2 linked regions of the Homo sapiens genome follow. The gene in region 2 interacts genetically with the main gene of each other region. Each region holds a gene or a part of one and is shown on either strand. Other genes may lie near its edges. The genes, in order: PBRM1 and NUP160.

Evidence for each region.
Region 1: changes in NUP160 (region 2) and PBRM1 together harm fitness more than expected from each alone (negative genetic interaction), as found in Homo sapiens cells (one large-scale study listed by BioGRID).

Annotation. Positions count from the first base shown.
Region 1 is NC_000003.12:52,605,716-52,609,543, forward strand, and holds part of PBRM1 (protein polybromo-1), read right to left. Parts: coding exon 3,598-3,828; intron 1-3,597. UniProt on the Homo sapiens protein: Involved in transcriptional activation and repression of select genes by chromatin remodeling (alteration of DNA-nucleosome topology). Required for the stability of the SWI/SNF chromatin remodeling complex SWI/SNF-B (PBAF).
Region 2 is NC_000011.10:47,782,098-47,785,925, forward strand, and holds part of NUP160 (nuclear pore complex protein Nup160), read right to left. Parts: intron 2,967-3,828; coding exon 2,825-2,966; intron 1,102-2,824; coding exon 976-1,101; intron 1-975. UniProt on the Homo sapiens protein: Functions as a component of the nuclear pore complex (NPC). Involved in poly(A)+ RNA transport.

The sequences.
Region 1 (3,828 bases), on a different chromosome or scaffold from region 2:
CCTCAGCCTCTCAAGTAGCTGGGATTATAGGCACCTACCACCATGCCTGGCTAATTTTTGTACTTTTAGTAGAAACGAGGCTTCACCATGTTGGCCAGGCTGGTCTCGAACTCCTGACCTCAGGTGATCCGCCCGCCGTGGCCTCCCAAAGTGCTGGGATTACAGGTGTGAGCCACTGTGTCCGGCCTTGGAAAGGTTTTAAATATCTTTTGGGGTCATAGAAATGCTAATACTTGTAGGAAAGCAATAAAAATAAAACTTACCAAGGGAAGACACCCCTGAAACACTTTTTTTTTCTTCTTGAGACACAGTCTCACTCTGCTGCCCAGGCTGGAGTACAGTGGCACGATCATGGCTCACTACAGTCTCAATCTCCTGGCTCAAGCAATCCTCCCACCTCAACCTCTCGAGTAGCTGGGACTATAGGCATATGTCACCAAGCTTGGCTGATTTTTTAAATTTTATTTTAAGTAGAGCTAAGGAAGGTCTTGCTATATTGTCCAGACTGGTCTCAAGCTCCTGAGTGCAAGCCATCCTCCCACCTTGGGCTCCAAAAGTGCTGGGATTACAGGTGTGAGCCACTGTACCTGGCCCCTAAAACATAATTTTATGTTTGTTTTCTGAATGAAGATATTTGAATTCTGTTCACTTGAAATTAAAGTTCATTTTATAATAGTGTACAATTTTAAGTATAAAAAGTGAAAATTTCTGTAAATTAAAAGTAAAAAATTTTTGTAAAATTTTTGTAAATACCTTTCATGGTATACTAAAAGGGCAGATCATAATTCCATCATATCGCATGGTTTAGAAATGAACATTCTGTACAAGAGTCACTAAACACCTAGTATATGCTTTTGTTTATTCAAAGCATTATAAAGAATTTATTAGTCTACGAGGTCAGGTATTCATTGAATGTGCAGGAACATAAACGCAAGCTGGAAAAAGAACTCTAAATTCCCCTCAATTGGTAATCTTTTTATATAAGGCAGACATTCAGCAAAAGGAAATAATTAAGAATACAGGAGGCTCTTAATGCTTCCCTTGTTCATCTTCCCACAGGTCTCTTTTACCTGCAAGGGGATCAGAGTGTTTAGTCTGGGAATACTGCCAGCAGTTTAGGAAAGCCAGCAGCCAACTGGCATGAGTCAGCACTGTGCTGTTACTAAATACTGTTGATGGACAAACTATTGTCACCTGAGTGAATTTTTCTCTTGTTACGTCTCACTGTTCAGATTCCTTCTATTTTAGCCTGTGAAGTCCTAGGTGATGTTGGGTAGCAGTGGTGGGTAGGGGTAGGGGTAAATGGTGATGAAGCATGAAGACTCTTAGAGATCAACATGGAAATCTACGGTATGTAGACTTCATTGAATTTATGAACTAATATTTCTGGGATGCCTAGCTTTGTTACTGATAATATAGTAGATAAAGGCATAGTTTATCATTCACTAAATTGATGCATCTCCATCAATTCTTATTAAGTACTTATTCTTAATAAGTACTATAAGCAATCACAATACTATCTTTGTTCACAAAGTTAAGAATGGCTCCCCGTATGTTTTTCTTTAAAAAATTTTTCCTAACTACTAAATTACCAGGGATCCCTTTTGTTTTTCAACAAAGCTCTGGGCATGAGGGTAAAACTGTGTGCATCACTATCTCATAAAAATACACCTTGGACTCTATCTTCCAGGCCTCAAAAGCAAAAAACAACCATGTCAACAATGGGAGAATGAAAAGAGCTAATTTCCTAGAGATACAAATCTTAATTCTTAAAATAAACATTTCATCTATAAGACATAAACGAAGTTCCTAATAATCTAGAAGACAAATACTCATTGAAAGACTCACAGAACTAACACCAAGATGTAATGGGGCTAAGCAGGGAGGAGAGGAAGGGAGGGGTATTAGACTTAAGGACTACTTAAGCCAAGAACAAGAACAGAAAGAAGTCTAAGCTACATGAAAGCAGAGTTTGTTTTGCCCACTGGTGTATTACATGCATCTAGAATATGCTCATTAAGTAGCCTCTCAATAAATATGTGTTGAATAAATGAGTAACTCCAAGAGTTTTTGACTGCAAGATGTCCCTCCATCCTTCTCTTTATTTCTACTCAATTGCTGAAGAACCATATTATTAAGGACCATTTCTTAAAAGTGTCACACATGGGCCTCACCAAACTGGCCCCAACTCTATCCCTGTCTCTTAAACATATCATATTCATTTCCTAACTCCATTTCTTTGCTCATAACATTCATCTTATTTGAAATATCCTCTGGCCTATTCATTTGAACCCTACCTATCATCCCATGCCTTTTAAGGAGAACTGTGGCCCACAGAGTTCCTTACATCACCATCTTTACTAAATATAAGGTTGTGGCATGTTGTCTCATGTGTGGAATTATTTTTCCCTTAAGCGTAAGTCCTGGCCCATCCATCAGACTTCAAGCTTTTAGAGCACAGAGCTCAAGGCTTATCATCTATGGCCGTGCTCCATGACTTGTCCTGGTAACTGGCTCAGGAGTAGCCCTCTGCAGTGGAGAGCAAGACAAGTCACATCATTTACTAGTTGTAAGACTATGGGTAACTTTTCTCTGCCTATGCCTCTAATTCTTTCACATGCAAACTGAAAAGATTATCACTTATCTAGAATGGCTATCATAAGGGTTAGAGATTGCCTTCATAAAGTGCTTAGCATGGTGCTTTACGAAGAGCTGGTGCTTAACACAAGCAGCAAATGTTACTATGTTTTTTTTCTTTTATTTGCAAAGACACTGAAAGCAAACATTACTACTTGCTTTTCTTTAAAGGTTCAGAGCAAATTCTGATTTCATAGATTCCCCAGCTGGCATTACACTGCCTGAAGGTCTAGTTCTAAACATGATAGGCTGTAAGCTCCAGGAAGGTAAGGTTTGTATCTTTTTTTTTTTTATATTTTTCCAACTGTCTCTAAGTGCACATATAAAATACACTGTAATTGCTGAATTTAATAGTCAAGTCTGCTATTGACATGTAGCAACGATATATCACAGATAAAAATTAGAAGGAAATTTAAGTTTAAAGTAAATCTAAATTTGATTGCTTCTTTTAGAACATTTAATGTCTTCAGCAAGCTCTTAAGGTGAGAAACCTGAGATTAAAAAAAAAAAAGAAACCCTCTGAGGTACTTAAAATGGTGATCAAATTTCTATCAGTCTAACCTCAGGACAACACCTTAGAGCTATTTTATTTAAAGCATTCGTGCACTGAAGCCAAACCTTAAAAGAAAAACGCTGTTACTATTTCCAATTAGAAACATTTATCTTTTTAAAAAACACATTCTATGAAAGGCTGTATTTTAAGTTTATGCTTTTCAAGAGATTTTCAATTTTGTCTTCCTCCTCACTGGCCTTAAACTAGATGACTTAGTGGTGTGCCTTCTCTCCCCCACAGAATATACTCACTCTTAAGAAGTTCTGGCTGATTAGAATTCAGAATAGCATGCTACCAACTACAAATCATGTATGTAAGTGGAAATAGTACATCAAAGCAATATTCTTTCATCTGTTTTGTATTAAATAGCACATATCCTCAAAATAAAAATGGCTTTGAAAACATACCGATTCATCCTTCTTGCTCGTTCCAATACTTCAAACATATGCTCTTGAAATAAATCAAGCCGACGGTAGCGATTATTTTCAACATTCTTCCTAATTATGTCAAATGTAAGGGGTGGTTTGTTAGGAAAGTTGGGATCCACAGCAGGAATTTCTGCTAAAGAATCGCTGTAGCATCTTCCCTCATCATCCTGATGACTCATGACTGACACAAAAAGATTGTGGATAAGCTCT
Region 2 (3,828 bases):
ATGGTGAAGCCCCATCTCTACCAAAAATATTAAAAAATTAGCTGGATGTGGTGGCAGGTGCCTGTAATCCCAGCTACTCAGGAGGCTGAGGCAGGAGAATCACTTGAACCCGGGAGGCGGAGGCTGCAGTGAGGGAGTAAGTGGAGGCTGCATCACTGCACTCCAGCTTGGGCAACAGAGCAAAACTCAGTTAAAAAAAAAAAAAAATATATATATATATATATATATATATATATATATATATATATATATATATATATGCGCCTATACCGATGTTCCTCAACTTATGGTGGGTTTGTTTTCCAATAAACCCACTATCAGTTGAAAATATCATAGGTTGAAAATACATATAATACATCTAACCTAATGAACATCACGGCTTAGCCTAGCCTACTTAACCATGCTCAGGACACTTAACGTTAACCTATAAAGTTGGGCAAAATCATCTAACAGAAAGCCTACTTTATAATACACTGTTGAATATCTTGTGTAATTTATTGAATACTGTACTGCAACTGAAAAACTGAACGGTTGTATGAGTATTTTATTTATTTATTATTTATTTATTTATTTATTTTTGAGATGGAGTCTCGCTCTGTTGCCCAGGCTGGAGTGCAGTGGCATGATCTCGGCTCACTGCAACCTCTGCCTCCCAGGTTCAAGCGATTCTCCTGCCTCAGCCTCCTGAGTAGCTGGGATTACAGGTACGTGCCACTGCATCTGGCTAATTTCTGTATTTTTAGTAGAGACGGGGCTTTGCCATGTTGGCCAAACTGGTTTCGAACTCCTGACCTCAGGTGATCTGTCTGCCTCGGCCTCCCAAAGTGCTGGGATTATAGGCATGAGTCACTGTGCCCGGCCATCAGTATTTTAAAGTATGGTTTCTCATAAATGTTCATCACTTTCAAACCACTGTAAAGTTGAAAAATCGTAAGTCAAACCATTGTAAATTGGGGACCATTTGTATATGCCTACCTCAATTCCGAAGTATTGATGTCCTTTTCCCAATACAGCATCCACATATTCTGACACCAAATCCACAGCTTCTTCTAAAAGGTCATAGTTTAAGTATAAACGAAGCAATTCAGCAGCATCAACCTTCTGTGAAAAGTCAGTGATTAAGAATATGTACCTATTTCCCTCCTACTTGAGTACTGACCAAAGAATGTTGAGTGGCTGATTCCCTAACATTTGTATTTCTCAATATAATTAAACCAGTGGCTTGGTTTACTCATCTGTATCTTAGGATAAGAGCTGATAACAAATCTGGGGAGTTAGGAAAAAAAAAAAGTTAAATCCCTAAGAGCCGTTACCTCTAGGCAGTTTGGGAGGCCCTTATCTGTTAAATAGCCTTCTTCCCCTGTTTTATGACCTAAGACATATTTTAACTTCTCTCCACTTCAGTTTCCACAGTTGTAAAGTCAACAAACTTTTCCTGAACACTAAAGTGACAATATATTCACATAATAAGAAATATATGAATGACAAATGCAAAAGAAGTTCAAAGAATCACCAGCTTTAAATCTGAAGTCTCTATTTGGAAGAGCTCTATTAATTAAGCATGCTTTCTATATTCCCATTTGATCACAATCTTACCTTTACCATCTTAGCTGGCTTCCCTACTTTCCTATTTATTTATTTTTTTTGAGACAGAGTCTTGCTCTGTCGCCCAGGCTTGGGGGCAGTGGTGCAACCTCAGATCACTGTAACCTCTGCCTCCAGAGTAGCTGAGATTACAGGCACGCACCATCACATCCAGATAATTTTTGTATTTTTAGTGGAGATGGGGTTTCACCATGTTGGCCAGGCTGGTCTCGAATTCCTGACCTCAGGTGATCTGCCTGCCTTGGCCTCCCAAAGCGCTGGGTTTACAGGCGTGAGTCACCGTGCCCGGCCTCCTTTCTACCTTAAAAAAAAAACAAAAACAAAAACAAAAAAAACAAAACAAAACAAAACAAAAAAAACCAAAAAAAACTTTCCTGATTTTAAGCTTTAGATTTTCTCTTTCCTTATCCTACTAACGGTGGTTCAGATGCAGAAGTTCTCAAACTTTAGCATGCATCAAAATCAAATTAGGAGCTTCTTAAAATGTAGATTTCTGGCTCCTAGCCTGAGATAATCTGATTCTGTAAGTCTAGGATGAGGAATCTGTATTTTGAAGAAGACTGCCATCTGAATAATTCTGATGCAGACAGTCTAAGAACCCGTTTTTGATTTTTAATAGGTGAAACAGTGGGAGTGGAGAAGGAACCAATCGGAAACTGGTTGTGCTCAATTAGTTGTAAACAACACGGCACTCAGACCAGCCATAGTGTTATATTATTTGAAAAGTACTCCACCGACTCCTGTGACTTTTTTGAGGTATGAAGAGTAAATCCTGTGTCATGCATATGCTCATTGTTCTAAATATAAACTCATTGTTCAGTGAATATAATAGGAGTCATTAACCTAATTACTAACCTATGAAACTTCAAATCTAAATACACAGTAGTACTGTGGAAATGAATTTGAATTGTTCTTATGGTTTTAGCTATGATGAAAAGCTTCCCAAAGTACGTAAGTCAATATGTTCCCATAAGTTATCACCCCATCTTTTTCTTTTTCTTTATATATTTTTAAATTTAAATAGAGATGGGGTCTCCCTGTGTTGCCCAAGCTGGTCTCAAACTCCTGGGCTCAAGCCATCCTCCCCTGTTGGCCTACCAATGTGCGGGCATGACAGGTATGAGCCACTGCAATCAGTCCATATTTTTAATCATCTCATGAAGTTATCCAGAATGATAAAGAGTGGGTTCTTACTCTGTACAAGTTATAATCCGTTTACCTTGTAACTGTTTATAAGCCAATTAGGCAGAGGCACTCCATGAGACAAGAGCTTGTTGATTACACAGTGGTGATACAAGTTATTCTGGACTTTGTACCTCTCCAGGTAAGTGGATAATAGTCGCCATGCTTCATCTGTAGCACTTGAAAAAAACAAAAATGACTAATGAGTTTCAGATTCTTAATAGCTATTTAGAGTACCATTCAAAGCATGTATTTACAAGGAAAACTTTTTTTTCAGACAGGGTCTTGCTCTGTCACCCAGGCTAGAGTGGAGTGGTGTGATCTCAGCTCACTGCAGCCTCAGCCCCAGATTCTCCCATTTCAGCTTCCTAAATAGCTGGGAATACAGGCATGCACCACTATGCCCAGCTAATTTTGTTTATGTTTTGTAGAGACAAGGACTTGCTATGTTGTCCACGCTGGTATTAAACTCCAGAGCTAAAGTGATCCTCTGACCTTGTCCTCCCTAAGTGTTGGGATTACAGGCAGGAGTCACCATGCCCAGCCTTACAAGGAAAACTTTAGAAATTAACAACTGAATCAATAATATAGCTAAATGGGAACAAATATTATTTGGGCTAATGTGACTTATGGGGATAGCACTAGAAACTAGATGTCTTGGGTTCGTATATTCCTCTCCCACTAACGTATTTAGTATTTAGTAAACAAACATATTTAGTAAATGAACGTTATTTGTTTGGCTATTAATGCATAATTCATTTAACTCCTTTGTTTCTGCATTTCTAAAACAAGAAACTGGTTCAGAACACTGGTTCTCAAACCTGATCAAGCATTAGAATCATGCAGAAGTTCTAACTTAGAAGACTAGGGTGATTTCTCATAATCTGTATTTTAATAAGTTATTCTGATGTGCTAATTTAGGGGTTGAAAACTAATGTCAGAGAACTTCCAAATTCTAAAGTGCTATCACTCTAAAGTGCTAAGCTGTATAATACCAAGTGCAAATGCAGTTCAGAAAGGGAAGTTTACTGAGGGTTAGGA